Linked DNA regions of Homo sapiens: regions 1, 2, 3, 4, 5 and 7 are each reported to be linked to region 6. The links are microRNA targets in miRTarBase. Many come from high-throughput screens and were not tested one by one. Region 6 holds a microRNA gene; each other region holds the end of a gene's coding sequence.
What was found. Region 6 holds the annotated microRNA hsa-miR-676-5p (UCUUCAACCUCAGGACUUGCA, at 3,215-3,235, shown strand). A microRNA usually pairs through its seed, bases 2 to 8, with sites in the 3' UTR of a target mRNA and lowers its output. Matches are read on the target gene's strand: a 7mer-m8 pairs with bases 2 to 8, a 7mer-A1 pairs with bases 2 to 7 and ends in A, and an 8mer does both.

Region 1 (4,613 bases), not on the chromosome of region 6:
AGAATTATGTATCAAAACACCTTGGTACTAGCACAAATGCATACATATAGTGGAATAAAGAGGCCAGACGGAAGTCCTCATACTTATGCTCAGATTTTTGACAAGAGCGCAAAAACTTATTAAGGAGTCTTTTCAACAAATGACTTTCAAAAAGCTGGATATCTATATGCAAAAGAATGAAGTTGAACTCTTACCTTCCTCCATTTACTAAAACAAACTGAAATAAATCAGACATAAAAGTACAACTTAAAACTATAAAACTCCTAGAAAATAACATGAAAAAAGGTTCATGACACTGGATTTAGCAATAATTTCTTGGGTATAATACCAAAAGCATAGGAAACAAACATAACATATATTGGACTCCATTGAAATTTGAAAACTCCTGTGCAAAAAAAAAAAAAAAAGACATGAACAGAATGAAAAGGAAGCAGACTGAATGGTAGACAGTATTTGAAAAACACATATCTGCAAGGGGTTAATATTTAAAATACGTATACAGAATATGTACATATATAATACGTACATGTTAACCACTCAACAAAGTATATATACTTCACATCATGTTGTACACAACAAAAGCATACAATGTTATCTGAAAATTTACAAAAACTTTCTTCAATGGGCAAAGACATTTAACAGATATTTCTCCAAAGAACCTATACAATTAGTCAACAAGCAAATGAAAAGATGCTCAACACCAATACTGAAATGCAAATTAAAAAACCATAATAAAATAACATCTTACACCCATCATGATTAAAAAACAAAGTGTTGGCAATAATGTGAAAAACTAGAACCCCTGCACTGGTGAGAATGTAAAATGGTGCAGCTGCTATGGAAAATAATTCCCCCCACAATTTAAAATAGAATTAACGGGAAGTGGCCAGGCGTGGTGGCTCACGCCTGTAATCCCAGCACTTTGGGAGGCTGAGGCGGATGGATCACAAAGTCAGGAAGATCAAGACCATCCTGGCTAACACGGTGAAACCCCGTCTCTACTAAAAATACAAAAAATTAGCCGGGCGTGGTGGCGGGCACCTGTAGTCCCAGCTACTTGGGAGGCTGAGGCAGGAGAATGGCGTGAACCCGGGAGGCGGAGCTTGCAGTGAGCCGAGATTGTGCCACTGAACTCCAGCCTGGGTGACAGAGCAAGACTCCGTCTCAAAATAATAATAATAATTATTATTATTATAATTATTATTATTAACGGGAAGCACCATTTCCACTTCTGGGTATATGTCCAAGAAGAATTTAAAGCAGGGCCTCAGGAGGTATTTGTATATTCATGCTCATAGTGGCATTAACAAGAACAGAAGAGTGGAAGCAACCCAAATGTACACTGAAGAAAGAATACAGGAAAAGTGGCATATACATATACCACAGTCATATGCCACACATTTCTGTCTACCATGGACCACATGTATAACAGTAATCCCGTATTATAACAGAGCTAAACAACTCCTATCACCTAGTGCCACCACAGCCACTGTAACTCAATCCCATTACTCAAGTGTGTGTGGTGACACTGGTGTAAACAAACCTACTGGTCTGCCAGTCATATAAAGAGCACAGGCCGGGCGCTGTGGCTCATGCCTGTAATCCCAGCACTTTGGGAGGCCGAGATGGGCGGATCATGAGGTCAGGAGTTGGAGACCAGCCTGGCCAACATAGTGAAACCCCATCTCTACTAAAAATACAAAAAATTAGCCGGGCATGCTGGTGGGCACCTGTAATCCTAGCTACTCGGGAGGCTGAGGCAGGAGAATCGCTTGTACCCGGGAGGCGGAGGTTGCAGTGAGCCAAGATCACACCACTACACACCAGCCCAGGCAACAGTGCAAGACTCTGTCTCAAAAAAAAAATAAAGCCAGGCGCGGTGGCTCATGCCTGTCATCCCAGCACTCTGGGAGGCTGAGGCGGGCGAATCATGAGGTCAGGAGTTCGAGACCAGCCTGGCCAACATAGTGAAACGCCATCTCTACTAAAAATACAAAAAATTAGCTGAGCGTGGTGGCAGGCACCTGTAATCCTAGCTACTCGGGAGGCTGAAGCAGGAGAATCACTTGAACCCAGGAGGCAGAGGTTGCAGTGAGCCGAGATTGTGCCACTGCACTCCAGCCTGGCAACAGTGCGAGACTCTGTCTCAAAAAAAAAAAAAAAAAAAAAGTGTGAGGCAAGGCTTCAGAAAATATTCCAGAATATTGTTATCATAGGAGATAACAACTCCCTGTTATTGAGCCTGAAAACCTTCTAGTGGGACAAGATGTGGAGGCAAAAGACAGTGATATTAATGATCCTCACCCTCTGTAGGCCTTGACTAATGTGTGTGTCTGTGTCTTCATTTTTAACTTATTTTTTACGAAGTTAAAAAATTAAATAGAAAAAGTTTATAGAATATAAAGGAGTACTTCTATACAGGCTGTATAATGTGTTTGTGTTTTAAGCTATTATTACAAAAGAGTCAAAAAGCTTTTTAAAATTTTAAAAGTTCATGAAGTAAAAACGTTACAGTAGACTAAGGTTAATTTATTACTAAAGAAAAAATTAATTTAGAGTAGCCTAAGTGTACAATGTTTATAACATCTACAATAGGGTACAGTAATGTCCTAGAGCTTCACATTCACTCACAACTCACTCCCTGACTCAACCAGAGGGGTCCCGCAAGCTTCGTTCATGTTAGTGCCCTATAAAGTTTTTACCATTTTTCATACATTTTTACAGTACCTTTTGGAAACTTAGATATGTTTAGATACACATTTACTTATCATTGTGTTTCAATTACCTACAATATTCAATACTGTAACATGCTGTTAAGGTTTATATCTGAGGCGCAATGGACCATATCATATAGCCTAGGTGCGTAATAGGCTGTGCCCTTCAGGTTTGTGTAAGTACACTCTTTGTTCACACAATGACAAAATCACCTTAAGATGATTACTCAGAACACAGTCCTCTTGTTAGGCGACACATGACTACAATGGGATTTTATTCGGCCTTTAAAAAAGATGAAAATCATAAGCTATGCTACAACATGGATAAACCTTGAAGACATTTAGGGAAATAAGCCTCAAAATAAGTCACAAAAGACTAAAACTTAAGTTTCCTCATATGAGATATTTATAGTAAAATTCATACAGTAGTATTGTCAGGGGCTGGTTGGCGTAGGGAATGAGGAAGAGGAGTAGTTTAAAGCAGCGGTCCCCAACCTCTTTGGCACCAGGGACTGGTTTCATGGAAGCCAATTTTTCCACGCATCAGGGACAGAGGAGGGGGCAGACAGTTTCAGAATAAAACTGTCCCACCTCAGATCATCAGGTATTAGTTAGATTCTCATAAGGAGCACACAACCTAGATCCCTCACAGGCACAGTTCACAATAGGGCTCAGGCTGCTATGAGAATCTAATGCTGCTCATCTGACAGGAGGTGAAGCTCAGGTAGTGATGCTGGCCCGGTTCCTAACAGGCCACAGACTGGTACCAGTTTGCAGCCTGGGGGTTGTGGACCCCTGGTTTAAAGGGTATAATGTTTTAGTTTCATTAAGTTGAAAAAACTTCTGGATATTAATTGACAACAATGCGAATGACTTAACACTACTGAACAGTACAGTTAAATATGGGTTAAGATGGTAGATTTTAAGTTACCTGTAATTTGCCACAATTATAATTTTTTTCTTTTTGAGACAGAGTCTCGCCCTGTCACCCAGGCTGGAGTGCAATGGAACAATCTCAGTTCACTGCAACCTCCGCCTCCCAGGTTCAAGTGATGCTCCCTGCCTCAGTCCCCTGAATAGCTGGGATTACAGGCACCTGCCACCATGCCCAGCTAATTTTTGTATTTTTAGTAGAGATGGGGCTTCACCATGTTGGCCCGGCTGGTCTCAAACTCCTGACCTCAGGTGATCCACCCACCTCTGCCTCCCAAAGTGCTGGGATTACAGGCGTGAGCCACCACGCCTGGACATAAATGTTTTTAATGTAGTTCCCAGCAGGAAATCCTCGCAGATTTCCATCTGAACTCTTTCAACATTAGATTTACATATATTAATAGGTTCTTGGTCCGATGTGAACCTTTTGGTGCTGAATGAGGTGACAGTTTTGGTGACTTTCCTGCATTCACTCCACTAAGGCCTTTTTCCAGTATGAATTATCTGATGTTTAATGAGGCTGGAGTTGTATTTAAACACTTTGCTGGATTCACCACACTCATAAGACCTTTCTCCAGTGTGAGTTTTTTGGCGCTGACCAGTATTACATTTGTTGAAGTCTTTCCCACATTCCCTTAACTTAAAAGGACTTTCTCCAGTGTGAGACTGCTGATGTATAATAAGGCTCGATTTAGTCCTAAACAATTCCCTACATTTACTGCACTCATGAGGCTTCTCCCCAGTGCAAACTTTATGATGTTTAATGAATGTAGAGCGGTATCTAAGAAACTTCCCACAGTTGCTGCATTCATAAGGCTTTTCTCCAGTATGAACTCTCTGATGAATAATGAGTTTGTAGCTATCTCTAAAAAATTTCCCACATTCACTACACTCATAAGGTCTTTCTCCAGTGTGAACTTTCTGATGTCTACTCAGTGTACAGCGATATCTAAAGAATTTCCCACA
Region 2 (4,613 bases), not on the chromosome of region 6:
CCTGATGGGAACACTCAGTTGCTTCCCTTTCTGCACCATGGTGAGTCTAGACCCACCCACCTGATGTCCCCACTGCGTCACTCACCCCTTCAGGCCACCAACCTCCTCATCACTGACCACTGACCCCTACAACCCGCAAGCCTGCACCCCAGTCTCCCTGTGAAATGGTGCTGCGCAAACAAACATTGTTCATCCCCCAAGGCCGGGTTCAAGCCTTTCTGCTACATCCTCCCTCTTTAATATCACCCCGCACCATGGTTCCCAAGGACAGGCACGTGGCTTCACTCAGGAAGTGTGGCAGACATACACACCCAGGCTCCACCACCAGATATTCTGACTTGGCAGATCTGGGAAGGGACCCAGGAATCTGTATTTTAGCAACAGCTTAGGTGGTTCTGAGGCAAGGAGTCCAAGTTGACCATGTCTGCAAGAGCTGCATATAGGTAAGATGGACCCTGCAGCATGTCTCGGTGACTCAGGGGCTTTGCCTGAGTACCAGGTATGGGCTTCCCTGAGCTAACCTGTCCAGGCACAGGCATGGAGACCCCAGTTATAACAGTAATAGCAGTAACCACCATGGATTGAAGTCCTACTGTGTGTCAGGTGCTTTACTCAGGCGTCTCCTTGGATCCTGTCAACATTGGGAGATGGTATAATGGAGGTGTGTCATCTTTTGACTCTCCAGTACCAAACACCTTTTTCTTTTGGGGGCACAGGCCCCAATGTGTGAGTTTCACCAGATGCAGAGTTCTGCTTCCCCTTCTATTGAGGATGGAAGCAGCTATTCCTCCCACCCTTCTCCCGGCAGCTGTGCTGCAGGCACGTGACTTGACCTAAGCCTGGCCACATGCATGATTCTGCCCAGGACCCCAGATCTGCGGATGAGGCTCAAATGCAGGGCCAGTTGCAGATTACTTACTCAGAGGCAATTTAAGGATTCAGAGTCTAGGAATAGCATGGTGGCCTCCAGTATCCAGGGCAGTGGCATTGATGGCAACATGTCCAGACTGTCTCATGTGGCCTCTGCTGTCCATTCTCTCTTGGCTTCTGCCCATTTTCTAAACCCAATCCCCCAGCCTCTCATCAACTCTGAGTTACTGATATCCCCCTAGAATTCCCTTGCTGTTTTAGATAGCCAGAGTTGGATTCTGTTGTTAGCATCCAAAATCATCACTGGCATGGTTAGGCACTATCATGCCCATTAAGGCAAGGAGGAATATTGAAGCCCAGAAGGTTAACTGAGTCACCCAGGATCAGACACCCTGCAAGGATGCAGAGCTAGATTCAAACCCATACATGGTTTTCCTCCAAGACCTGTGTCGTTAGCCACACAACACTATTGTATCAGTCAAGATAACAGCAAGACACCGCTGGCTCATTGAAACTGGGTAATTGAGGAGCATTTAATAAACATGTGCATAGAATTTAGGGAATCCAGTAAGGGGTGCTTCAGTATGCTGAGGCTGGCAATAGTGGTGGGTCATTCCCACTGCTGGGCCTACAGAGGAGAGGATGGAACAGGTGGCTGGACTTGGAGATGGGAGCTGTTTGCTGAGAGGCTTGAAGGAGCCTTCAGAGGGGAATGCAGCCACTCCTGCCACCACCTGCCAGGGAGGGAGCCCTGAGGACAGAAACCCTGATCTGACTGTCTCCCCACCCTCGGCTCTCCTCTCATGCTTCCCATTGGCTCAACCAGCCAGAAGCTGGCAGCCAGGGAGCCTGCTGGTTTAGCCACATTGGTCAGGTTCCCAGGCAGGATGGGGAGGATGGAGCATGGCGTGGCCTGTAAGTGCAAATGGGAGAGTATCCAGCACGGCCATTTGTCTTCCGATTTAGTGCATATAATATTTCAGTCACGTTTAATATGTTGGACTTAAATAACACTTGATCTATAATAAGTTAAGCACACAAGCATGCACTGGACCATGCAGTGGGTTATGTCTGGATGAATCTGTATGAATGTGTCATGGGCTTTGGTAAGGAGTGTAATGACTTTTTGGAAACAAGCTTGAGATCCACTAAGAGGGAGCTGTATACTAGTATACAGTAGGTCTGCAGGGGCCCTGGACTCATAAAGCATTTGCTTTATGCTCCAGGAGAATCTGATGCGGTGGCCTAAAGACCTCTGAAAAACATTGCCCTCATGTGTTCTGCCTCTCCTAGAGTGTATTTAATGATAATACCCCCTTGCCCTGGTCACTTTGTCAACTTCATAAACAGGAACAATGCTGGGATTGCTAAAGTGTGGGGTTCCAGACCAGCAAGCTCAGCATTATTATAAACACTGCATCCTGTACAGTCACTGCCTCTGAGCTGCTTGGTTCTTTTAGGTAGGAAAATAAATGCACCAAGATTAACAGCTTCTGGATCTAGTGCGTCTGCAAAGATTCTCACCAGAGCATCAGGATGAAATAAATGCCCACCACACACCTTCTAATGGGCTCAAAATTGCGGTTCAGAAATCATCTCTCTAGGGTCATTACCATTACCTGGGCAGGTTCTGACAGAGCAGCATTTAGGGGAATGGGGAAGTCCTTATGCGATGGAGCAGTCTGGAAGCTGGACCTCCCCGTGCAGGGAACTTTTTCCACAGAAGTGGTGCTCATTGTAAAAATACATTTACCTAACATGAGACACACGGTATGTGTGGAAAAGTATGATTGCTCTTGGGAACTGAGGATAATATCTGCCCTGGGCATCACTAAATTGGGCTGGAAGGACCCACCATCCTTTCCCCACCCATGAGGCCCATTTCCCTTTAAAGCTCAAAGTAGGAAATAACAAAATCCTGATTGAAATCTGTGGGAGATTGCAAGACAATCTCCCACAGAGATTGTCTCTGTGGTGGCCTGAACACCTACCTGCTTCACCGGGGAGGGCACTGGAGAGAGCATGGAAACTGAGGCAGGTGTTCCAGGAGCAGACTGAGAGAAGAGGAGGAGGGCAGAGTGGGGAACTAGGCAAGCACATGGGGACAGCCTCCAGAAGCCTCCCAGGGGGAGAGCTTTTACTCCACCATCCCTGACCCTTGTGTGATACAGGAAAAGAGGCATTTAGACACAGGCGGAACTCCTGGTTATTCTATTCTATATGGTTTTGGGGTCCTTCAGGTAAGGAGCGCTTCAGTTTTCACTCCTGCCAGTGGGCAGTGGCTTATTCATGTGGCCTCGTTCTAGTCACATACATTTCTGCCTTCACGGGGCTATTTTCAGGATCCAGCGATAAATGCACACAGGATGTCTGACATGGTCTGTTGTTGCTCTCCTATGGATCCCATCTCGGCCTGCCAGTATTTCCCCAGAAGAAGATACTCAGTTTAACTCTTTTCTCTGAGAAGGATGCACTTTCTCACCACGATGTCTTATTTCTCCAGGTTCCACAATCTTCAACACCCTTTTCTGGGAGTGTTGGAAAGAACCACACATAAGCATGAAACCCAAGTGTCTGATGCTAGAAAGAGGAAGTCCCAGCATGGGGCGAGCAGGATGCTTCTGTAGTGGGAGCTCTGTCCAGGTCAGGCCAAAATTGTATGGTCCAGGGCAAAACTGAGCAGGAGAAGTATCAGGTGTGCCTTCTGCATGTCACAGCCCCCACAAGAGAATTACGGTGAAAAGCATTGAGCTGTCTGTATTTCATGCCAACCCCAAGTGGCTGGTGGAATGAAGGACCAAGCATGTTTGGGGCTGTAACTTCTTTTCTGAGGCACAAATGCCCACCCAAGATTATTAGAGGAACGAGGGCAGTGGGCAGGAAGGTGAGACGCTGACTTTAGAAATAGCCGGTGATTACAGATTTAATTCATGTTATTAACTCCCTGCCTTTTACCTCCTCCCTCCTCCCTTGGCACAACTGCCAGATGGATGTGGCTGGAAGTCAGAGGACATTCTCGTGGGTTCGTGGGCCTAGGGTACAAATGACCTCAGCGTGACAGCAAACAGGACAGAGAAGACCAGGCTCTTACTCAGGAATCCACCAGCCAGGAGAATGACAATGTTGAACACCGGAACCCTGCGGGAGACAAGAGGCTGAACGCTACTGCTGGCAAAGTCTCTCCCACACGCACATGTTCCCTCTAGAAAATGCCTTCATGTCCCACTCTCCTCTGCTTAGATCCTTGCTCCACCTTTCCCGCACTGCCTGACCCTGTGCTTTTCAGTCTGTCTCATTGCCAAAAACTACTGATTAGAAACAATTCAGTGGAGAGTATAGGTCCCTGTCCAGGAGAGGCACTGGAGGGAGACAGTCGGGCTGATCAGCCCATCCTCCTCCCTGTGATGTGGTAGGGAGAGAGGACTCTGGCCAGGAAACCCGCTCTCTATTCTCAGTACCGTACCCTGCCTACTGGGATGGTCATCTCACCTCTTTAGCTCGGTTTCCTCACCTATAAACCGAGAAGAATCCACCCGTAGTGAAAATCTCATCATGAATTTTATAGATTTTGGCGAAATGATTCTAAGGTTTCTGGGTAAACATCAATAGGTATCATAATAAAAAGATGCAAAGGAGTGAGGGCACTTGGCCAGTTCCATCAGCAGACATGCAAGCAGATGAGAGCACAAGGATGTGGCATGGTAAGACACAGGGACAGACAGATGGCAATGGAACACAAAGGC
Region 3 (4,550 bases), not on the chromosome of region 6:
GTTAGGCCAATTGTGGATTAAAGTTTTATTGAATTTTTTCAGTTGTGGAATGATAGCTATTTTTATAATCTGAATTGATTAAAAACTTACCTTATTTAGAAGAATTTGGTCTGTTTTCCGTTTATTTAAGGGCTTTGGAATTTGTTACTGAAAGATGAAAAAAGGTTTTCATTAGAATTTGTTAGTGAAACAAAATCAAGAATCACCCCTCTCTTCCCCAGAGTTCCAAGTAACATGGTCTTGCCCATGTTAGACACATGCTATGTCTTTCTCATCTAATCTCTTTTAATGTAATTTGCAGGAAAGTGCAGATCACCTTGCACATGAAGTGAGCTTGGCAGTATTTCAGCTGGCTGGAGGAATTGGAGAAAGGCCCCAACCAGGTTTCTGAAGATAATTTTCATATTCCTGAGAAACTGGACTTTTTACAAGTCTTTACAAAACTGTCAATAATAATGGCAGTACTAAGAGATTTATAATCATAATGTTTACAATGCAGCCTACTGGATTGTCTCTAGATCTGTTTTTCTTAAACACTAACAGAATAATTCTTTATAAATAGGTAAGCCTTACACTTGTTAAAGAAATTTACCTCTAATTTCAGTCTCACTAATGTAAAATACTGGGACTTAAGTATACAATTCAGTCACTAACTGTACAGTTTTATGTGGGGAACAATTCATGCAGGCTACTGGAAAATTAAATCTTATTACCAACTCCTTGTGATATCTTTGCCATCACCATCACATGAGCAAGATGATGTTTTGCAGCATTCCCCATTGCTGATACAAATGGAGAGGGCAGAGAAGACTTTATACAACCAGTTTTTCCATTGCAGAGTCTTAAGAAAGATTATTAGATGACTTACCTATATGACTAATGCCATCAGGAACTCAGAGGTATGAATAGGGGGTTGTCCATCCCTCTTCCATACTGAGGTGGAGATGCTCATGCAATACTTTTAAGGATGCATGGTCCAGCCTTCAGTTATTCTTCACTGCTCTTGGTGAAGGTATGTGGGAGAAAAACTAATTATAATACGTTTCCCAGCCTCTGATGGAGAAGGAACACCATTCTGATACCAGAACATGGTTAATAAGGAAAAGAGAAAAATCCCCAACCAATCTTAATTGAACCAAGTCTGAAACCAATGGAAAAAAAAAATGGGTAGTGTATATTTTGCAGGTTTAAGACAACTCAGGACAATAAAAACAATGGACTTTACATGTGTATATATATAGCTCTCTTAGGCACCATAATCAGTATGAGCCAACAATATTTAAACTTGATTCAGGCCACATTCAGACATTTGCTCTTATATACAAATATTTAAATTAAATACAATCTGAAATGTGTTCTGTTACATACAAAAAAGGAAAAACTATACAACGCAGAGCAGTGTGTGTGTTTTAAATAATTACATTTACATGTAAGCTAAATGGAACCAGCAATGGTGCTCAAGTTTTTATCATCCCTTCCAGAAAATCTTTTTCTACCATCTCTTCTATTTTTTGCCTGGCTTTGCTGGAACATGGTTTGTGGTTCTCCAGTTTCATGTCCTTATTAGGGAAGGCATTTGAGTAGAGGATAGGACTCCCTGAGTGTCCTCCACATCGGCTTGTGACTTTGCTGTTGAAGACTTGACTGAGCACATTGAAGAACGGCAGGAGCTGCTCCATACTGCGCACGGTGCAGATGGTGAGCAGCAAGTGCCCTGGCTCCCAACCCAATGTTCTCCCTGAGTTGTCTTCCTCTGGATTTTTCTGCAGAAAACAAAAAGTGAACTGGTATTAATACAACAGACAATGTGGTATGTTAGAAAAATTAAAAATATATAAACTTTGGCAATTGGTCAAGAAATGAATACAAATGACATTAAGTTTCTAACTCCTGACCTGATCAAAACCCTTGGTGCTTCTGAGACCTTTTACTGCCATTTATTAGTTTTACATGGAGCAGTCTAACATTGTAGTAATAGTTCCCAACTAGAATGCGCAGATAAGCTTAGTTAACAGAAATAGCTTTGAACAGGAATAGAGTCAAACATAAAAGTTTTATGTTGTGCTTTGTATTTACTCAAAAAGCTCCCAGGTTTCTGAACCCTCACTACTGTAACCAAGGACTAGGTCACAAAATTACTACAGAAAAAAGGAACAAAGTGCTTTATACATTTCATAATATATCCCCTTTTATTATAATTAGTTAATTCCCTTTTATCTAAATGGCCTAAATTTGCCATGATGGTAGCAGTGTCCAAAGTGAATAATTACTGTCAGTACTGCATCACAGAGAAAGGAAGGGATCCCTCAGGAGACACTGCTGTCTCCTTCTGGGTTGTGCTAAACAACATAGGGAGGAAAGCTGGACCTGGAGTCAAAGGAATTGAGTTAGTGTGCTGGCTCTGCCATACTTACGGCACCCTTGGGCAGGATATACAAAGGTTCCTCACTTATAAAATGGGACAGTCTAAAACTACCTTTTAGTAGAGAAGTCAAATGAGAAGGTATGTGAAAACTCTGTCAACTAAATATAAAGACTAATAATTTGGGTATTAAGAGGCTAGTTTGAGAAGCCACCTGAATTACACAAACACAGCTACAGACATCATTCTGTCTAGAGAAAGATAAGAGAGAACAGGTTGGTTGAACTTGGGCAGAATCACAGATACAATTCCACACTAAAGAATGAAAATAAGCAATGAACTAGACAGAAGGAAGAAATCATGAAGACTTAGGAAGCAGAATTACAATCTGTCATATTAACAAATGGAGTTTGCCTTCTAAGATCAGATGTTGCTCAGAAACTTTCATTGTTTACCTAATAATTTAATATCACTAGTTTCCTAGTGGGTCAAGCAGATGCAAAATCCAGCTTATTTTCTTCTATGTGCTCTCAAGCTTATTGCTTATTTTAAAGTAAAATCCTGAAAAAGGAAAATATTAGGTTGGTGCAAACGTAATTGCGGTTTTTGCATTGTTGAAATTTGCCGTTTTATATTGGAGTACATTCTTAAATAAATGTGGTTATGTTATACATCATTTTAAGCATATTTCTCACTTTTTTTTTGCTAATGACTTATTGCTGTTTATATTTATTTTAGACTATGGAAATGATGTTAGACAAAAATCAAATTTAGCGATTTTCTGAGTTCAAAATAGGTTATAAAGCAGCAGAGACAACACACAACATCAACAATGCATTTGGCCCAGGAACTGCTAATGAACATACAGTGCCGTGATGGCTCAAGAAGTTTTGCAAAGGAGACTAGAGCCTTGAAGATGAGGAGTGCAGTGGCCAGTCATCGGAAATTGATAATGACCAATTGAGAACATCATCGAAGCTGATCCTCTTACAACTATAAGAGAGCTGCCCAAGAACTCAATGTTGACCATTTTATGGTCGTTCGGCATTTGAAGCAAATTGAAAAGGTGAAAAAGCTCAATAAATGGGTGCCTCATGAGCTGAGTGAAAAATAAAAAAATTCGTTGTTTTGAAGTGTCATTTTCTCTATTCTATGCAACAATAATGAATCATTTCTCTATCGGATTGTGATGTGTGCCAAAAGGTGGATTTTATACGACAACTGGCGATGACCAGCTCAGTGGCTGGACTGAAAGAAGCTCCAAAGCACTTCCCAAAGCCAAACTTGCTCCAAAAAATGGTCATGGTCATTGTTTGGTGGTTTGCTGCCAGTCTGATCCACTACAGCTTTCTGAATCCAGGTGAAACCATTACATCTGATAAGTATGCTCAGCAAATCAATGAGATGCACCAAAAACTGCAATGCCTGCAGCCGGCATTGGCCACCAGAAAGGGCCCAATTCTTTTCACGACAACACTGGGCCGCACGTTGCACAACCAACGCTTCGAAAATTGAACTAATTGGGCTATGAAGTTTTGCCTCATCTGCCATATTCACCTGACCTCTTGCCAACAAACTACCACTTCTTTAGGCATCTCAGCAACGTTTTGCAGGGAAATTGCTTCCACAACTAGCAGGACACAGAAAATGCTTTCCAAGAGTTCGTCAAATTTGGAAGCATGGATTTTTATGCTACAGGAGTAAACAAACTTATTTCTCATTGGCAAAAATGTGTTGATTGTAATGGTTCCTATTTTAATTAATAAAGATTTGTGTGAACCTAGTTATAATGACTTAAAATTCATGGTCCCAAACAGCAATTACTTTTGCACCAAACTAAAAATATAAGTTAAAATGGAAGAGTCTAGGAGCAAACCAAGAAAAGATCACCTACTTCATCATCTCTGGTCAAAAACAAACCAAAAAACTTAACAGCTATCACTTAAGTTTGCTTCCTAGCAATTATTTAGCTTCCAGTCTAGATTACAGGATATATAAAACTTTCTTTCTTTCTTTCTTAACTATGACACTGGCACCAATGAGAGTCCTGTGACTGACTTTCACATTTCCACCATTACTCAATTACTGGTACCATACCACCTCTAATCCCCTAAATCAAACTGCAATTCAACAATAAAGGGCGTACAGAGATGACTTTGTCCTGAAGGAAAATGAATATCCTTGTACC
Region 4 (4,613 bases), not on the chromosome of region 6:
CTCTTGTGAAACGCATTTAATGCAAACTCCCTGGGGTCTTTTCAAATGTTGCAATTGCCTCATCACAACTGTAGTGCCTAAAAAGGAGAAATCCTGTGAAGGTTTCAGCAGAAAATATGGAACCCAAACAATCCTTTCTAGATAGGTTTACCAGATAAAATATAAGATACCTAGTGGAATTTTTTTAAACCAAGTTAAAGTTGAATTTCACATAAACAATACATTTTTTAAGTCTGTGTATGTCCCAAATATTGCATGCTCTGGATTTAACATAAGTATGTCCCAAATATCATATGGATATGCTTATACTGAAAAATTCTGTGTCGTTTATCTGAAATTATACTGTACTGGGTATTGCGTATTTATACTTGCTGAATCTAGCAATCTAATTTCTAGATCATATGTCAAATTCCTCATATTACAATGTACTTATTCTTAGAGAAATCAAAACCTAAGGAAACTGAGAGAAAAGAGATTATTTTCTTGCTTATTTGCCCCAGAGGACAAGGTAGAAAACTTGATGGAGATGCTTTGGTTTAGGGGCAATCCAGAGCATTTGATCAAACTTCACAGTGCATGTGAATCACCTGGGCACCACGTTAAGTGGGTCTGGAATGCGGCTTAAGAGCCCGGATTTCAAACAGACTCCAGGTGATGCCAGTACTACTTGTCCTGGGGCCACACTTCAAGTAGCAGGATGGGAGAAGTTTCTGGTCCCCAGGAAGAGGAGACTTTGGTAAAGGCAGTTGCTCATTAGGGAGGTTTTAAAATGTCTGAAGCGAGAAATGTTGCCTACCACTCTTGTTTGTTGTTGTTTGTTTTAATCACAGGTGCCGGGCAGCCTACAACATTGTGACACGGCTTTCAAGCTTCCGGATCACTCACCATTTCTTTACTGAGAGTGTCCCCTGGCAACTGCTTAACAAAATCCCAAGCTCAGGGGCTTCTCAGCATTTACCTAATTTCTGAAAGGCTCTTCTGAAAGGTGGTATCTGTTCTTTCGTAGCACAGTGTTTATGTTTTTCCTGTTTATTGTTTTGGTTTTTTTTTTTTTTTTGCATTTGCACAGTATACACAAAAGAATATGGGGTTGTAATGATCCTGAATAGCTCAAAAAAGGTTTTAGCATGGTCAAACAGGCTTATGGTTTAAAATGTGTTATTCTCTTCTTTGGGAATTAGCTAAATGATGCAATAAACCTGTTTTGTTTTAGAATGTCTAGGAATTAAACACTTTATGTTTACAGAATTGAGCTGCAGAAAGTGCAAGACATGCCAATTTGAGACACACGGTCTTCTAAGACTGAAGGATAAATTTAATGCATTTCAGAAACTAAACATCACAGCAAGCTCTATCTCTGAGCTATAATTTGTTTTTAATGCAAAGACACTAGTTTGATAATATATACTGTAATCCTGAAACATTTGTGTTACTTACCTTTGGAGGTAGAAATTATACCAATAAATTATTGCACCGTTAGTATTAGATTCTGTGTACCTTGGAAGTTATGTCATTAATATAGGCTGGTTCATCAAATAAAGCAAAACCTTGCAATATCAGCTAGATTTACACTCCGGGACGTTGCCCAAAGGTAGGAAGAAAGCAGAGGGAAATATTTCAGTCATCATTTCCAAAGTCATTATCAAAATCTGTGAGGAAGTTTAATCTTCCAAAGAGTCAATGTCAGACATCAGGCCTCTGTTGCCTGCTTCTCTCGAGGCACTAGATTAGGAGTCTTCAATAAGAGACTTAACATGAGGTATATGGAAGATGAGGCACCGAGATAAGTTCATCATTAGGTGTGAGCACTGCTCACCCTTGCTGGCAAGTTCTCCTTAAGGGCCTGAAGCACAGGTGTCCAAAGAAAAGCGTTAAGTCCATCTTAATAGAATCTATGTGGTATATGATGTGGTCAGCCCCTGGTCTGTGATCAGCAAGAACCTACAGCACAGATTATGCCCTGCCCACTTCAATGAATACCTACTCTCCTCCATTCTCCATCACTTTTTTTGCTATCAAGAACTCCGGACCTTGCCCATGGAGAAGTTTAGAGAGGAACTCTTGTGGAGAGCTGGTTTATTTTCTGCCCTGTGCGACGAGTTTCAGCTGGCCAAGAAAGGAGTCAAGTTATTAAAAAGCATCACAATGTAGATCTCCAGGCTGGTTTTTTGTTTTTTGTTGTTAAGACTGGGGAAAGGGGGACTATTTATTCTGCCTTAAATCAATGGCAAATAAGTCAAGATGACATTTTGTGAATGTAGACTATGGATACACTCCTAATAGATTGATGTAGTCATAAAAGGGGGTCAAGTAGATGTTTTTCTGTTATGTAAGCAATAATTTTTCCGTGTCTTATTGAGTATGGCTAGCGATTATTTATTACATGCTAGATGGGTTCTTTGCATGTGGGTTCCATATAGGTGCAGAAATTTCCTCAGCCACTGGAGGGATTTCGACCATATTTGTCATTTGGATGAGCTGTTATTAGATTGAAATCTACACATCATTTCATTAAAAATTGTGCCTTAGAAAACGCAAAGCTGTTGCACATGGCGATAAATTATGGATGCAGTACATTGAAGAGAGATGAAGTCACTTCCAAGTTTCCAAGACTTCTCATGGAGGTGTTTGCTGTTTTACAGGAAAAAATAAAAATAAAAAAAGAAAAAAAGAAAAAATTAAAAAGAAAAATTGTTTTGAAAATGTACAGATCAAGTCCAATATTTTGATTATCCACCTGCATGTTTTATTAAATATTTTGATAATGTGGATGTTTACACTTTGCATGATATTAGCAGAGTACCACTAGTAATGCACAAACATGTACAATATGGTCATTCATAACCGATTTTTATAGAATACTTTTTACATGTGCAACTCCATCCGTTATGTAAGGATTACATGAATATTGCACATTCCCTTCTGGTTTCACAAACCCATTTATACATATTTCTTAGTGAGGCTCATTGTACATGTATTGAAGCTAGAATCGAGTCAAGAAAAATAAAGCCCCATTCTCCAACTGCAAAATGTGCTTTCCCATAATGAACACTAGTCACCAGCACAGAATAATCTCCAACATTTTCTAAATTCTAATTGCCAACTGTTTCTATTTATATTTGATTTATATTTCATTTGGAGTCTGTTACATGGCAGCTTAGGCAGACTAGATCTTGTTTTTTCCAATGCAGCATAATGAGTATGATCTATTTCTTTTCAAATAATCTTTGAGATCCCAGGAAAAAAAAAATGCTCTGCTCCATTGAGCTATAATGTAAATGTGTTTGTTTAAAAAACAGGTGAGGCAAGTGAGTGATTTATTGTTCCTGAGGAAGTATATCTGATTTTTTTTCTCATACTCCAAAAGCTAGTCCCTACTCTTTAATAAAAATAATGGGTAACTTTTTGTTTTTCACTAGCGAACTTCCATGACATTTCCTTTCTATGTAGTGTGATTAATGCAATACATATTATAGTTATCTATACACAGTGTAAGATTTAACAAACTGAAATGATCCACCTCATATGTGAGTCCGTCCAAAAGATGTTACTGCTCTGGGTGGGCCAGTGTTCTATATCGGTTATACTAACTTTCATTTAAAGTATTTATTCTAAAATGCCTCTGAGAAACAGTAAAAAATAAAAACAACAAGTTGTCTAAAATGCAACAGCTTTTATAGTAAATGTACATTTATAAATAAAATACTCAAATCAACTTTGTATTCCATTAATTATTTTTGGAGGGGTGGCAGTTGGTTTTCTTACATGGGGAAGAGAGACTCAAGCTTTCTCTTGTAGCTTTTGGTCCAGGGTTACATAGACAGATGATGGCAGTGCTGGATGTTTGCATGTACCTATTGATGCATAGTTGAGGTCAACTATTGAAGGCAAACCAAACTTACTGGCTGGTTTAGGGGTCACTGAGGAATTGCCTTCTATAGAAGGGTTTAAGCTCCTGGAGATGAGACACACAATAACCAGCAGAGGCCATGCAAATGCCAGTGAAACTCGTCTGAAACAACCAAATGATGGTCAGCTTGCAGCACTGGCTAGACAAAAAGCAAGGCAAACTTTTTTTTTCTTTTTCTTTTTTTTTTTTTGAGACAGGGTCTCACTCTGTTGCCCAGAATGGAGTGCAGTGGTGCAATCTCAGCTCACTGCAGCCTCGACCTCCTGGGCTCAGGTGATTCTCCCACTTCAGCTTCCCAAGTAGCTGGGATTACAGGCATGTGCCACCACACCCAGCTAGTTTTTTGTATTTTCACTAGAGACGGGTTTCTCCATGTTGCCCACGCTGGTCTTGAACTCCTGGGCTCAAGCAGTCCACCCGCGTCCATCTCTCAAAGTGCTGGGATTACAGGCATGAGCTACCGCACCCAGCCAAGGCAAACTTTTTGAAGTCCCTGTATTCTGCCACTTTCCCCAGCACTACCCCAATGTTCCCCACTTATTATATATGTAAGGTGTGTTTACTAAGGGCCTTTTCCTCAGGTGTGGAGCCAGGGAATCTGCTGTGAATCAGTAGCATCCTGCTGACACTGTTGGCTCTCTGAAGTATACACGTATTCTGCCTTGCACTCTGTTCCAAATTTGAAGGTGGTGGCAATACTAAG
Region 5 (4,532 bases), not on the chromosome of region 6:
GTCAGGAGATCAAGATCATCCTGGCTAACATGGTGAAACCCCATCTCTACTAAAAATGCAAAAAATTAGCCGCGTGTGGTGGCGGGCACATGTAGTCCTAGCTACTCGGGAGGCTGAGGCAGGAGAATGGCATGAACCCAGGAGGCGGAGCTTGCAGTGAGCCGAGATTGCGCCACTGCACTCCAGCCTGGGCAACAGAGCGAGACTCTGTCTCAAAAAAAAAAAAATAATAATAATACTGAGTAAGATGGAGCTTACATGGTGGGATTATTAGGAGTTGAAGATAAATAATGCACTAGAGTGAACAACCTAATTCCTGGCATGTAGTTAGTAAATGAGAGGTTTTTGGTTTTTTTGTTTTGTTTTGTTTTGTTTTGCTTTGCTTTGCTTTGTTTTGGTGATGTCGTTATTATCATGCTTGAATGAGCCCATGACTGAATCTTGTATGGACTGGAGAAGTGTTTAGGCAGATGCTGAATTATCAGTGTCCATGAAATCAGCGTCTCTCCTAATGAGAGATGGGGGATTGGAGGAAACGAATCGTAACTCCTTTTTCCTTTCCTTTCAATGTCTTTGTATATTTTATTAAAAGTTGCTAAAAAAAAAAAACCACTTTCAAAAACATCCCATCACATGTCATTGTAGGGAAGCAAAAATGAGAAAAACACTTGATATTTTTTCCTCTAACCATTTTATCGGAACTGAATCCCGCTTTATTTGCTGAGGCTGCAGTAGTTTATTCATTCTATATTGATCAGACTCCAGATTTGCGTGGACAACTTAACTTATAACATTTTAAGTAAAATCATGCATTTTAGGCAGACAGACATCTCACTTTTTAGTATATATTCCTTCTTCTAGAGGATTATTTGGTGTGTGTCTGCGTGTGACCGTGTGTGTTTATTGAAAGGAAACAGTTCCGTGTTTAGAGTTTTGGGTTGTTAGTTAGAGGTCTAGTTAAGCTATAAAATTACAGTGGAATAAGTGATGACAGCCAGTTAGTACAGTTCCCTCTTATAGCTGAACTGAGCTTAACACACCAACAGAAATGTTTGGCAAATAGACTGCTAAAATGACTCTTTCCTTTGTGGGGACATAAGTTGCCTGACATTTACATGTTTATAATGAGTCCTGGAAGTAGAAATGAAAATATGTGCAGAAAATAGATTTCTATCATCACTTCCTTTTCTTATTGAGGGTAGCATTGTCCAGTACGTTTTTGTCATCTCTGTGCTTTCTTGTTGTCCACCCATACAGGAAGAATGTTGGTGAAAAGCACAGAAACCAGTGACGTTTGTGGCTGTGGAATTTCCATGGAGAAAAGAGAGCATCTGAACACCTGGACCATCTTTTGCACCTGGCAGACCCTCTGCACTCACCCCAGCGTGTTCTGTGAACTTGAGTGACAACGCGTGCTTGCAGGGTGCTTTTTGGACGACTGGGGAAGAGGTGGGGAGGGGGTGGTGGGGGGAAGCATGGACGAGAACATGGAGCAAATGTTTTACAACCTGAACCTCAGAACTGTGATCCTCCAAGGAGCGCGCTACTTGAAGAAAAGAAAAAAAAAAAAAAAAAGTCGAATGGCTTCTCAGGGATTTTGTTTTCCGTGCACATATAAGCCATAGTTACAGTACAGGTGGCAGTATTTAGAGCACTCAGATTTCAGTTCTGTTAAATGTGAAAGAGGGATCGACTGACGTTCATTGCTGTTCCATAACTAGTGTAAAATATGTATATGTTTATCTTTATTTTTATAATATGCAAATACATTTAAATTTATACAGTTTGAAGCTTCTAGCGTTAGTTCACACTGGGTGCAATATTCTGCATGAGAACTGTGCCAAGATGGGGCTGATTTCTTATTTTAGTATAAGACTTTTTTGTTTTTTCTTTATTCTTTAATCCTCTTCACATTAAAAAAAAAATCTCTCTGTTAGCCCATGGATTAAGTGTTGGTTCATAGAGATTGCCAATAATCAGAAAGAACCTTAAATGTGCATTTAAGACAGTGTCCCTTCCCTTCTTTTCAATGAAGGTCCCTGCCTATATAAATCATCTGGCACGCTGGTGGGAAATCCTTTGCTCTTCCAACGTGTTATTAGTGCTGGGCAGAGATGGGGCACACTCAGGGGCCAAAGAGGACAAAAAGTCCATGCAAAACTTGAGTCTTTTAATGGCTTAAGATAATCAGGAGTCAGTTCTGAATCTTACAAAGTGCTCTGCTTAATAAGTACCTTACTTAGCAGAGCACTTTGCAAACATATTACTTATTAGCAGAGCTCTTTGTAGACCTTCCACATCTGGCTGTCAGATCTTAAGGTTGTGAATTTAGGCTCCAGTTACATTCACTGGAGAGCATAATCCCACACGGGTTATTTATAAATACAGAGCCTCTGATTGGACGGTCTCCTGCCAAGAACTAGTAATACCCTTGTTTTAAAATCTTCACAAGGTAAAACTTAAAAAGCCAACCAAACAAATTGCTCTCCATTCTACTTTTAATTGGGCCAAACAGCATATGCTACAGTAGTAACATGTTTTTCGGAGAGTGTAAAAAACTCTGTTTACATTTGCCTCCTCCGTGGGTTGATCGAAAATGTATAAAACTGACTGCTTCTCGCCAGCCTCAGACAAGAAGAGTGAGTTGCTGGTACTCGCTACTCTTTTACTTCTTTTGTAAAGTATTGACTCTTGGAAGGCTACAGTATACAAAGTCTCAACATGTTTTTTAAAAGAAATAAGGAGCAAGCGACTGCCCTGCTAGAAATCACAAACCGATTTTTGTAGAATATTTTGTGCCCCAGGCATTAATTTCACTGACTCCAGAACCTGCAGTTCAGAGAATGATTTCTTATGATGATAAAAATCGAATGGGATCAGACGATGTTTGCATTTTTTTAATACTTGAATAGGACACCTCAAGTTTGAGATTTCATTTTCTTTTAGAACACAGTCACAAGATTAATCTGGTGAATCCTTTTGTCACAGTTCTCGTGTGTGTGTGCGCGTCTCCGTGTGTGTGTGTGTGCATGTGTGTAAAACTGAATGGTCACATTTAATTGCTTTTTGGACCATTGAATAGTTGGGAAGTAAGAATTTTTTAATTGGCATGAGACGGTTCCTCAACTGTTAAATTAACCAACTTTGACCTGTCTTTAGAAAAAGGCTTATTTGTATGATTTTGGGCTAACTCCCCGGGGACCATATTAAATGACAAAAATGCTCCTTTGGGTGACACACCCTACAAAGTATTTGCTGTTACGAACATAAACGCCCACATTCTTAATATCTAATATTTTTGACCAGTGATGTTTTATGCTGTCATCTGAACCCTAGAGAAGCAGTGTCAGAGGAAACCTTGGTGTCACATGTGTCTTAGCAAAAGGGTTACCATGATCGAGGGTCATGTGACCAAAAGATGCTCCAGAGAAGCTTGAGAATTTGTTTCAAGTTGGGAGGAGGGTTGGAGATACAAAAATCACTCTGCTCTACAGGACTCTTCAGCTGTCTATGCAAGAAATTCCGTTTTCTCTTTCAGCACCTGGAAAGACACAGCAGCCCACCGAGGCGATAGGTGATTCACTAAGCACAAGAGGAATGTTTTCTAAGCAAGGCGTCCCTTGCCTCTCAAACAAATGCCCTCCAAGTTTGTTAGGGTTTCTATTCCTGCAACTTGTGGTATCAAAACCACTTCCTGGAATTGTCAAAGCACTGCCAAAATAAATGTTTTTCCCCCTTCTAAGAAAAAAAAAATGACAGTGCTCATATTTGACACTTGTGTATTGGACTCTCTTTTGAATGAATAAAAAGGAAAAGGGGTTTGGTGTAATTCCTGATGGGGTGCGTGTTGTTTTTCATGCCATGGTTTGTGAATTTTAATTGTGGTTTCCCATTTCGTTGTTGTAACTGGGCAGAAATTAAAAAAGAAAAATCAATAAAAATACAAAGAAATGGTTAAACAGTTGTATTCCCAGAACTTAATTATTTCAGATTTTGTTCATTTGTTTTTACTTTTAATTCTATCAGTTAAGGAATGACTTTTATAGTTTTAGTCCTTAGTGGTACTGTTGGAGCTGTGGGAGGTGGGTGGTGGTAGCTCTCATCTGTTTGGTCTCCGAAGAGAAAACTAAAGAATCCCTGTTTTAAAACTGCCTCTGTTTTCAGGCTGAGGATATAACTTGAAGATCAGCTCTCTTAAATCAGAATCTTTTTTTTTTTTTCAATGATCCACTATATTCCTAAGTCACAGCTGTTGAATTTATGGTAGCTTTGGAAGTTCCCCTGATCTTTCTTTCAAAGGCTCTTAGCAGAAGTCCTGCTACATACTGCCTCAGGGTGCCCTATTTGCAAACTGGAAGAGCAGGCCCCTCAGGTACCCATCAGAGGATTTAGTACTCCATATTGTTTAAATAAAGGCAAAGAGAAGATAAGGAAGGACCAAAGCCAGGGTGTTAACGTGGTGAATCCATAACGGGTCTGCAGCAACCTCAATTCTTGCCTCCTCAGAAGAAAGAATTCAAGCGAGGGGCATA
Region 6 (4,613 bases):
ACCAAATGCTACATCTTCTCACTTATAAGTGGGAGCTACACATTGAATACATATGGACACAAAGAGGGGAACAATAGACACCAGGGCCTTCTTGCGAGTGGAGAGTGGGAGGAGGGTGAAGATCAAAAAACTACTTATTGGGTACTACGTTTATTACCTGGGTGATGAAATAATATATACACCAAACCCCTGTGACACACAGTTTATCTATAGGACCAACCTGCACATGTACCCCAGAAACTAAAATAAAAGTTTAAGAAATGACTTTGAGCCCTGTTTCTGTTGGTACTCTTCATGTCATGGGCATTTTAGGGAAAAAATATAAAAATTTTAGTTAACTCTTTGTCTTACACTGTATGCCAAAATCTATACCAGATTAATTGTAGATTTAAAAATAAAAATGAAACCATAAAAGAACTAGAAAATATATAAAGAGTTACCTATAATATCACATTAGGGAAGGCCTAAGTAAGCATGACACTGAAGGCAGTAACCATATAGGAAAAGATTATTAGGTTTAACTACATGTAAGGAAAGCTTTTCACACCCTTTGACCCAACAGTGTCATTTCTAATGACACATCCTAAAAAACCTTTGGACAAGTGTATAAAAATGTACATATGTGGGGCCGGGTGCAGTGGCTCACGCCTGTAATCCCAGCACTTTGGGAGGCCGAGGCAGGCGGATCACGAGGTCAGGAGATAGAGACCATCCTGGCTAACACAGTGAAACCCCATCTCTACTAAAAAAATACAAAAAATTAGCCGGGCGTGGTGGCGGGTGCCTGTAGTCCCAGCTACTCGGGAGGCTGAGACAGGAGAATGGCGTGAACCCGGGAGGCAGAGTTTGCAGTGAGCCAAGATCGCACCACTACACTCCAGCCTGCGCGACAGAGCGAGACTCCGTCTCAAAAAAAAAAAAAAAGTACATCATTGTTTATAAATGTACATAACATATAAATTGTTTATAAATGTACATATAAATTGTTTATAAAATGTACATATAAATTGCTTATAAACATACATTGTTTATAAATGTACATCATTGTTTATAATAGTGAAAAACTGGACCCAATCTAAATATTTATCAAAGATGATTAAACGCTGATGCATCCATATTAAAAATTACAATGTAAAAATGTAGTTATTGACATAAAAAAGGTTATCAAATGACATTTTTCATCTGATCCCATTTTGTAAAAATACCTATTTATATACATAGAAGACTTCTAGATGTGCATGAAATGTTAGTAGTGATTATTTGGGGGTGCTTTAATAAGCTCTTTTTCCTTTTGCTCCTCTTTTGTATGTATATACGTATGTATGCATGCGTTTATGTATGTGTAAGGAGTAGGTATATTTTGTATGAAAATAATAGAAGCTTAAAAAGATTTTAAAATTTCCATTTCTCTCTTTTCACTTGTGGATTTAAGTCAGACCTTCTCCAGGAAGCTATTTGTTCCCCTTAAGTGGCCAGTATAATTCCTGAAGCCACTCCCTCATCTTTTGTATTTCCCTATTCAACTGTAAGTTCTTGAAGGTAGAGTTGTGAGTTGCGTTTCATTATTTACTGCCTTCCATACACATACTCTGTAAGGACTGGTTGGCTGGTGATGGCCTGATTTCTTCAAAGTCTGCTTTTGAAGTCTGATATAACAGTGCTTACCCTTAACCAGCTGAAACGGTCAAAAACTTGGTCCGGGCCAGCACACCTTTGCAAAGAGGGCAGGGTAGCCATAATGGCTGTCTTCCTACTACTCTCCTAGGCTGTGGTGGCTAGCTGGCTGATAGAGCTGAGCCCTTTCTGTGTAAATCTTTCCCCAAACAGCTTTCTTGTTCAAGAAAAAGGCGTTTCTCAGGTTGAGTCGCTGCCTCATATCATTAATGTCTATGTAGTTGTGCTTTCCTCTCAGAACTTCCAAGCACATTTTCAAGAACTCGCAATGCTGTTAAAAAAAAAATTCATAAAGGATGGGTAACAAAGAAAGAAGACAAAGAACTGGGAGGAGAGGAGAGGAGAAGAGAGAAGGAAAAGAGAATTGAGATTCATGACCTTAAGTACAGCAGGTTGCTCCAATCTAAAACATCCCCTGGACATAACAATAGCTACTGTTGCACATGAAATTACTTTGCCAGAAAAGTCTACACAGACATTGGTTTTTCAAGGGACCTGTGAAAGCTCTGATGGCCACTCTGGCAGCCCTCCAGGTTAGAGACTTTACTGATCTCTAATAGGGCCTGCTCTTATAGTTAGAGATCATTCCACGTTTGTTGCAAATATCAAATGAGATGATAAATGGAAATATGTTTTATAAACTATAATATTGAAATGCTTGGTGTTCCTTTTGTAAGCTCTTGAGGGCACTGACAGTGGTTTAATGTATAACTGTGTCTTCATGGCAGTTTGGAACAGATTTTAAATACCTGTATTTAAAGAAAGTCAAATCCGTATACAGAATGAAGAGAATTTATTTCCTAGAAGGGAAAAAAAAAATGACTGTCTGGGAGCGACCTAAACTGTTTGGGGAGTTGCGGTCACCTAACTATGTTAGAAACACCTTGGGTTTTCTAAGTACCTTCAATTGATTAGAATTATTTTCCTTAGAAGTAATTTCCAATAAAATGCTTGTGATTTCACTGCCAATGAAATGGTTGACATGTCTTATTTTATTTTATTTTATTTTATTTTATTTATTTATTTATTTTTGAGATGGAGTCTCGCTCTGTCACCCAGGCTGGAGTGTAGAGCGTGATCTTGGTTCACTGCAAGCTCCACCTCCCAGGTTCACGCCATTCTCCTGGCTCAGCCTTCCAAGTAGCTGGGACTACAGGCGCCCACCACCACGCCCAGCTAATTTTTTGTGTTTTTAGTAGAGACGAGGTTTCACTGTGTTAGCCAGGATGGTCTTGATCTCCTGACCTCGTGATCCACCCGCCTCGGCCTCCCAAAGTGCTGGGATTACAGGTGTGAGCCACCACCCCCGGCCGACATTTCTTTTAAAGTGTCCATTAACTTATAGTAAATTACAATGGAAATGCATGTGGCCCTCAAGAGTGTATTATGGTCAAACTTTTAATAAGTAACAAATTAAATCATGATAAGGAAGTGACTAAAAGTTAAACACTGCTGCTCTGCTCTTTCCATGAAAATGACCCTTTGCTCCTTCCAAGTTCAACACGAGACTTCATATCAGATTCTCACCTGAACGCATGACTCTTCAACCTCAGGACTTGCAGAATTAATGGAATGCTGTCCTAAGGTTGTTGAGTTGTGCATTTCTGGGCATTTCATCTCTATGGGGAAGTACCCATTCCCTCACCCCAAAGACTGAAGTAGAGAGATTTTTCTCCCTAGGGAAGAATCTTCCTTGAAACTTTTGTGGCCTCAGGAGTCAGAAGACAGAATGGGGAGGTTTGATAGTTGGATCCTTGCCAAAAGCCTGACCCTTGGCTGTGAGACTCCCTCAAATTTGCAGTGTCTTGGGGATCCCTCCTAGTGACTATCTTAGAAAATAAACATTTTCTGTTCATTTCCAATGACTTAATTATCTATTTTATTTTTCTTATAGGCCCAGTTAAAAACAAGAAAAAGGGTAAGTTCCTGACTTTATAAAATTGCTGTCTTGTCATATATTTTCTAAAGTTAGAAGAAAAAAATCAAGAGTGCGATTTTTGTATTATATTCTTTCAGCATTGTCTGTCTGTTATTTTATTCAATCATATGTTATCTTCTTGAGTATTGTAGTTTCTGAAGAACAAGAAATCATTCTTCAGTGATGATTCACCTCTTTCATTCTTCCTTGTTCTTCTCCCTGCCCTTCTTTTTATTCTTTTTTTTTTTTTTTTTTTTTTTTTTTTGAGACGGAGTTTCACTCTTGTTGCCCAGGCTGGAATGTAATGATGCAATCTTAGCTCACTGAAACCTCCACCTTTGGGGTTCAAGCGATTCTCTTGCCTCAGCCTCCTGAGTAGCTGGGATTACAGGCACTCGCTTTTATCCTTTTTTTCCTCCTTTATCAAATCAGTGATTGAGTGTGAATGAAATCCTGTGTCACCATGTAGGAACTAGATACGCTACCTATCAAAAGATGTCAGTACCCTATTTCTTGGACTTAAAGCTTCCCTGATTTGATTTCCCAAAGAGTCAGGGAAGGTATTTCTTGCTTTGAGGATTCAATATCATTTTCTCTGTAATGAAAAAGCTATTCTGGAGTAGTACCCTGACCATTTAGTCTTTTCAAAGCAGCTTCCATTGTGCCGTTGTTGGGTCAGTAAGTCCCCAGTGTACTTGCAATGAAACTGGCCCTAGGGCATCTACAAGTGCTCACTTACTAAAAGAGGAGAATCAATCCAAAGACAGAACAGTCTCCAAAGACAGGGCCAGGCAATATGGTCTACTTCTTAGGACTGAAAGAACCAATTATGAAACTAGTTAAAGCACCTGTTTGTTTCTGGGTTCTGACCTGGGAGGAAGACAGAGTAAAACTAATGATTGTTCATTAAAATGCTTTAAGTGAAATGATGCTGTGTGATAAGATTTATGGAGCTTTATAGAATAGATTGTCAACCCCGGACTAGGCCAAAAAGACTGGCTTCAGCTGCAGTCTGCCACTT
Region 7 (4,613 bases), not on the chromosome of region 6:
ATTGAGCATAACGCTATATGCCAAACAGTCTTCCCAGGTTTTGACAAGTATAATTTCGGCCACATCCGCATAATAGGACTCTTATGTACCTTTTTTCTTTTTAGATGGGGCCTAAAAAAGCCAGGCTGGTGTGCAGTGGCTATTCACAGGCACCATCATAGAGCACTGCAGGCTTACACTCTTGCCTCAAGCGATCCTCCCGCCTCAGTCTCCCGAGTAGCTGGGACTACAGGTGTGCGCCACCATGCCTGGGTTTCATGTAGGCTCTTGATTATACTTTGCAAATAATTCCCATAGATGATAAATATCTTGGCCAATGACACACAGGGAGTTATGTGGCAGTGATGACAGGTAAGGCATGTGCCATGGCTAAAAGCACTATTGCATATGTGACATTAACAAGTTAGTTTATTAGTACTAATTTTTGAGACTTCAACAATGATTGAGTGGTGTCAGGTGTGGCGATTTAAAAATAAAAATATGTCTGCAAATGTTTTGACATTTCTCTCTTTAAAAAGTGAAAGTGGGCTGGGCACAGTGGTTCACGCCTATAATCTCAGCACTTTGGGAACACTGTGGGAAGACTGCTTGAGCTTAGGAGTTTGAGACAAGCCTGGGCAAGTTGGTGAGACCCCCATCTCTACAAAAAATTTAAAAATTAGCTGGGCATGGTGACGCACACCTGTAGTCCCAGCTACTCGGGAAGCTGAAGCAGGAGGATCACTGAAGCCCAGGAGGTTGAGGCTGAAGTTAGCCATATGCACTCCACTGGACGACAGTGAAAGATCCTGCCTTCAAAAAAAAAAGGTGAAACTTAATTCCTCTCTTACTGAATGTAGGCCAGACTTAGTGATTTTCTGGGAACAAACAGAACGTGGCAGAACTAACTTCCAAAGAGAGATTATAAAAAGGATCACATCTGTCACGTCACAAGCACACTCAAGCAGCTTATGGACAAGGCCCCTTGGGAGAAGAAACGACTTGCCAGTATAAACTTATCAGCCACAGAACTAAGCCATTTGAAAGCATATCCTACAGCTATAGTCAAGCCTTTAGATAAGCACAACCTCTTGAGACACTTGGAGCTAGAACTGCCTAGCTTAGCTGCTCCCAAATTTCTGACTCACAGAAACTGTGAGAAAAATACACATTTATTGGCATTTTAAGCCACTAATTCTTCAGGTTCTTTGGAATGTGGCATGAGATAACAGATTTTGGTACCTAGACAAGGGATGCTATTGAAACAAAAAGCTACAAATGTCAGAGGGGCATTGGGACCACAAACTGGGTGGAAATTGGAAGTGCCTGGAAAATATTATTAGCAGAAACCTGGATATTTTTGAGGAGCTCCTAGTGAGGGCTTAAAGAAAACTGAAAAATGTTACTGGAGACTAGGGGGAAGGGATTCTTGTTATGCAACAGCAGAAAGCAACATGGCTGCACGTGGTTACTGTGAAAAGTACAAAATAATACCTACAGAACTGTGTAACTGGCCCAGGCTCGTGCTATAATCCCAGCACTTTGGGAGGTCAAGGTAGGAGGATCAAGAGTTTGAGACCAGCTCAGGCAACATAGGGAGACTTCATCTCTACCAAAAAAAAAAAAAAAAAAAGAATTAGCTAGATGTAGTTGTGCATACACCTGTAGTCCTAGCTACTCCTGAGGCTGAGATGGGCGGATCACTTGAGCCCGGGAGTTCAAGGTTGTAGTGAGCTATGATCACACCACTGCACTCCAACTTGGGTGGCAAAGCAAGATTGTGTCTTTAAGAAACAAAAACAAACAAACAACAGCAACAAAAAAAGTGGGTAATTTAGCTTAGGAAACTCCCAAGCAGAATGTTGAAGGTGTCTTGCTTCTTGTTGCTTAAGTGCTAGAAGTGAGATAAGCTAGAAAAAGACTGTTAAACAGAAGTGAACCAGGACTTGCTTTTGGAAACTCCCAGCCTCTCCAGAAAGCAAATGATGCTAAACTTCAGAAATAGTCTCTGGACAAAGATAAAATCCAGAGTGCTGTTAGGGAAACATAGTATGTAGGTAACCTTAGGGTATGTGTTCATTTTGATCCTCTGAAAAGCAAAAAGCAAGATCAGATCAGAAGGAAGGAGGGGGCTATGAATGAAAAAGAGGTCCAGGAAAGGCAGTGAAAGCCTTCAGGCCATGGTACAAGATGGATGACTCTGAAGGAGAGGGATGAAGCAAGATTGGTAGAAAAACTATGAAAACGCGGGGCAGTATGAAAACAGTTTCAGCCTGGCTGATTCACAGTTCCCCAGCTGAAGGGTCTGGGTTTCGTAAGAATTGACTAGCATGAATACTTATGTTATGCTCAGAAAAGGAGCTGGGGGCAGCCCATAGGAAGCATGGCCTCAACATTAACACAATGATTATTTCAGAGAGGGAGCAGAGTGGGCACTTCACAGGCAGGTTATCTGTTCTCCAAAGAACAGATAGAGTATGACTGTTAAAAACCCTTGGTTAAGACTCCAGCAATATCTAATGTGACAATTATGAGAATCACCATTCAATGAAACTTCTATAAATGGCTCTGTCAGCAGCCTCTGCAGAAGCCCTAGGTAGAGGAGGCCGGATTTGCACGAGAGTGAATGAACAAGTGAGCATGAGCACCAGGGAAAGGTGATCCTGAAGATTCTGTTCATCTAGGTTCAGCTCACATGCAAAGGGAAGGGAATTGGACTTCAGGTTTTTTTATTTGCTGTTTGTGTTTTTGAGACGGAGTCTCATGCTGTTGCCCAGGCTGGAGTGCAGAGGCACGATCTCAGCTCACTGCAGCCTCCGCCTCCCAAGTTCAAGCGATTCTCCTGCCTCAGCCTCCCTAGTAGCTGGGACTACAGGCGTGTGCCATCACGCCTGGCTAGGCCTCGGTCTCCCAAAGTGCTGGGATTACAGGCGTGAGTCACCGTGCCTGGCCAGACTTCAAGTTTGAAGGGTAGAGTTTCAAGAATTTGAGGACATATTTTTAAAACACCACGACTGGCATTCTGAGTACAAATTGCTTATATTTCTACGTCATGCAAAATATGCTCAAGAAGCCACCCAAATTGCTTGAGCCCAGAAGTTGAAAGCTGCAGTGAGCTATGAGCATGCCTCTGCACTCCAGCCTGGGTGATAGAGCAAGACCCTGTCTCAAAAAACAAAGACAAAAACAAAAACAGACAAACAAACAAACAAAAAACGGCTCCAAAGTCACAGCTTTCTCCTGGCACTCTCACTGTCTAAGCCAGCCTGCCAGTGTGAGCAAGCCACCTGGAAAACAGATCCTTCCGCCCCAAGGAGCCTTCAGAAGACTGCAAGCTCATGGAAAGACCAATTCAAAAGCACTCAGTTAAGCCTCTTCCGAATTTCTGACCCTCAGAACCTATGAGTGATGTTTATTGTTGTGGTAAGACATTAAGGCTTGGGGTAATTTGTAATACAGCCATTGAAATCTAGTATGAAAGGCTTTTGGTCATCCTTTTAATTAATAAGTTTTTTTTTTTTTTCTTTTGAGACGGAGTCTCACTCTGTTGCCCAGGCTGGAGTGCAGTGGCGCGATCTCTGCTCACTGCAAGCTCTGCCTCCCGGGTTCACGCTATTCTCCTGCCTCAGCCTCCCGAGTAGCTGGGATTGCAGGCGCCTGCCACCACGCCCAGCTAATTTTTTGTATTTTTAGTAGAGACGGGGTTTCATCGTGTTAGCCAGGATGGTCTCTATCTCCTGACCTCGTGATCCGCCCACCTTGGCCTCTCAAAGTGCTGGGATTACAGGCAAACCACCGCGCCCAGCCTTAATTATTAAGTTTTTTTAAAAAAAAATCCATGCCATGGATGTTGTAGGCATGAAGAAACTGGGATTCCTGTTTTTTTTTTTTTTTTTCTTAATTTACCATTGAATAGTCAGATATTCCATTAAAACAGGACTGACATTGAATGCTTTCTAATGTGGCAAGATCTGCATTTTGAACTCTCTCAATTGCTAAAGCCATACCTATAAGACTAACATTCCATCATTTCTCACCAGTGTGGGCTGTCTGATGATGAATGGCGCGCTCGTACTCTTTACGGTCTTACACTTTTATGCTCCTATGAATTCTCTGATGGGCTTTAAGGGCTGAACCATATCTGAAGGTTTTCCCACACTGCTTACACACATAGGGTTTCTCACCAGTATGAATTCTCTCATGTTGAACAAGGTTTGAAGCACGACTGAAGGCCTTCCCACATTCTTTACATTCATAAGGTTTTCCACCAGTATGAATTTTCTGATGTTGGGTAAGGTAGCCATACATTTTAAAGGCCTTTCCACATTCTTTACATTCATAGGGTTTTTTATCAGCATGAATGCTCTGATGTGCAGTAAGGTGTGAACTACGTCTAAAGGTCTTCCCACATTCCTTACATTCAAAAGGTTTCTCATCAGTATGAATACTTTGATGTAGAGTAAGATTTCTATAGAAAGTAAAGGTTTTTCTACATACCTTACATTCATAGGGTTTCATACCAGTATGAATTTTCTGATGTTGATTAAGATATCCATGCAAGCTAAAGGTCTTGCCACATTCCTTACATTTATAGGGTTTCTCACCAGTATGAGTTTTCCGATGTTGAATAAGGT

Region 1: miRTarBase lists ZNF749 as a target of hsa-miR-676-5p. The part of its 3' UTR that is shown has no 7-base or 8-base seed match.
Region 2: the mRNA of TREM1 is a reported target of hsa-miR-676-5p. Seed matches in the 3' UTR shown: 8mer at 3,383-3,390.
Region 3: miRTarBase lists PGM3 as a target of hsa-miR-676-5p. Seed matches in the 3' UTR shown: 8mer at 1,632-1,639, 7mer-A1 at 1,654-1,660 and 7mer-A1 at 3,273-3,279.
Region 4: miRTarBase lists LIMCH1 as a target of hsa-miR-676-5p. Seed matches in the 3' UTR shown: 7mer-A1 at 2,577-2,583.
Region 5: miRTarBase lists MFHAS1 as a target of hsa-miR-676-5p. Seed matches in the 3' UTR shown: 7mer-A1 at 1,548-1,554.
Region 7: miRTarBase lists ZNF573 as a target of hsa-miR-676-5p. The part of its 3' UTR that is shown has no 7-base or 8-base seed match.

What each region holds. Positions count from the first base shown.
Region 1 is chr19:57,444,997-57,449,609 of GRCh38, reverse strand. ZNF749 (zinc finger protein 749) reads right to left here. Exons shown (of 3, transcript NM_001023561.4): 3 at 2,509-4,613. The coding sequence ends at 4,125. Among named protein-coding and RNA genes, the nearest start is that of VN1R1, 9.8 kb to the left of the region's middle.
Region 2 is chr6:41,272,223-41,276,835 of GRCh38, forward strand. TREM1 (triggering receptor expressed on myeloid cells 1) reads right to left here. Exons shown (of 4, transcript NM_018643.5): 4 at 1,383-4,008. The coding sequence ends at 3,903. Among named protein-coding and RNA genes, the nearest start is that of TREM1, 12 kb to the right of the region's middle.
Region 3 is chr6:83,165,075-83,169,624 of GRCh38, reverse strand. PGM3 (phosphoglucomutase 3) reads left to right here. Exons shown (of 13, transcript NM_015599.3): 13 at 302-4,550. The coding sequence ends at 391. DOP1A (DOP1 leucine zipper like protein A) reads right to left here. Exons shown (of 39, transcript NM_015018.4): 39 at 1,154-1,763. The coding sequence ends at 1,458. Among named protein-coding and RNA genes, the nearest start is that of PGM3, 26 kb to the left of the region's middle.
Region 4 is chr4:41,696,330-41,700,942 of GRCh38, forward strand. It overlaps LIMCH1 (LIM and calponin homology domains 1), which reads left to right. Exons shown (of 32, transcript NM_001330672.2): 32 at 831-3,715. The coding sequence ends at 856. Among named protein-coding and RNA genes, the nearest start is that of LIMCH1-AS1, 5.8 kb to the left of the region's middle.
Region 5 is chr8:8,782,781-8,787,312 of GRCh38, reverse strand. MFHAS1 (multifunctional ROCO family signaling regulator 1) reads left to right here. Exons shown (of 3, transcript NM_004225.3): 3 at 1,258-3,959. The coding sequence ends at 1,291. Among named protein-coding and RNA genes, the nearest start is that of CLDN23, 83 kb to the right of the region's middle.
Region 6 is chrX:70,019,650-70,024,262 of GRCh38, forward strand. MIR676 (microRNA 676) reads left to right here and starts at 3,208; the gene lies at 3,208-3,274. EDA (ectodysplasin A) reads left to right here. Exons shown (of 8, transcript NM_001399.5): 3 at 3,569-3,592.
Region 7 is chr19:37,734,427-37,739,039 of GRCh38, forward strand. ZNF573 (zinc finger protein 573) reads right to left here. Exons shown (of 5, transcript NM_001172690.2): 5 at 3,876-4,613. The coding sequence ends at 4,066. Among named protein-coding and RNA genes, the nearest start is that of ZNF607, 17 kb to the left of the region's middle.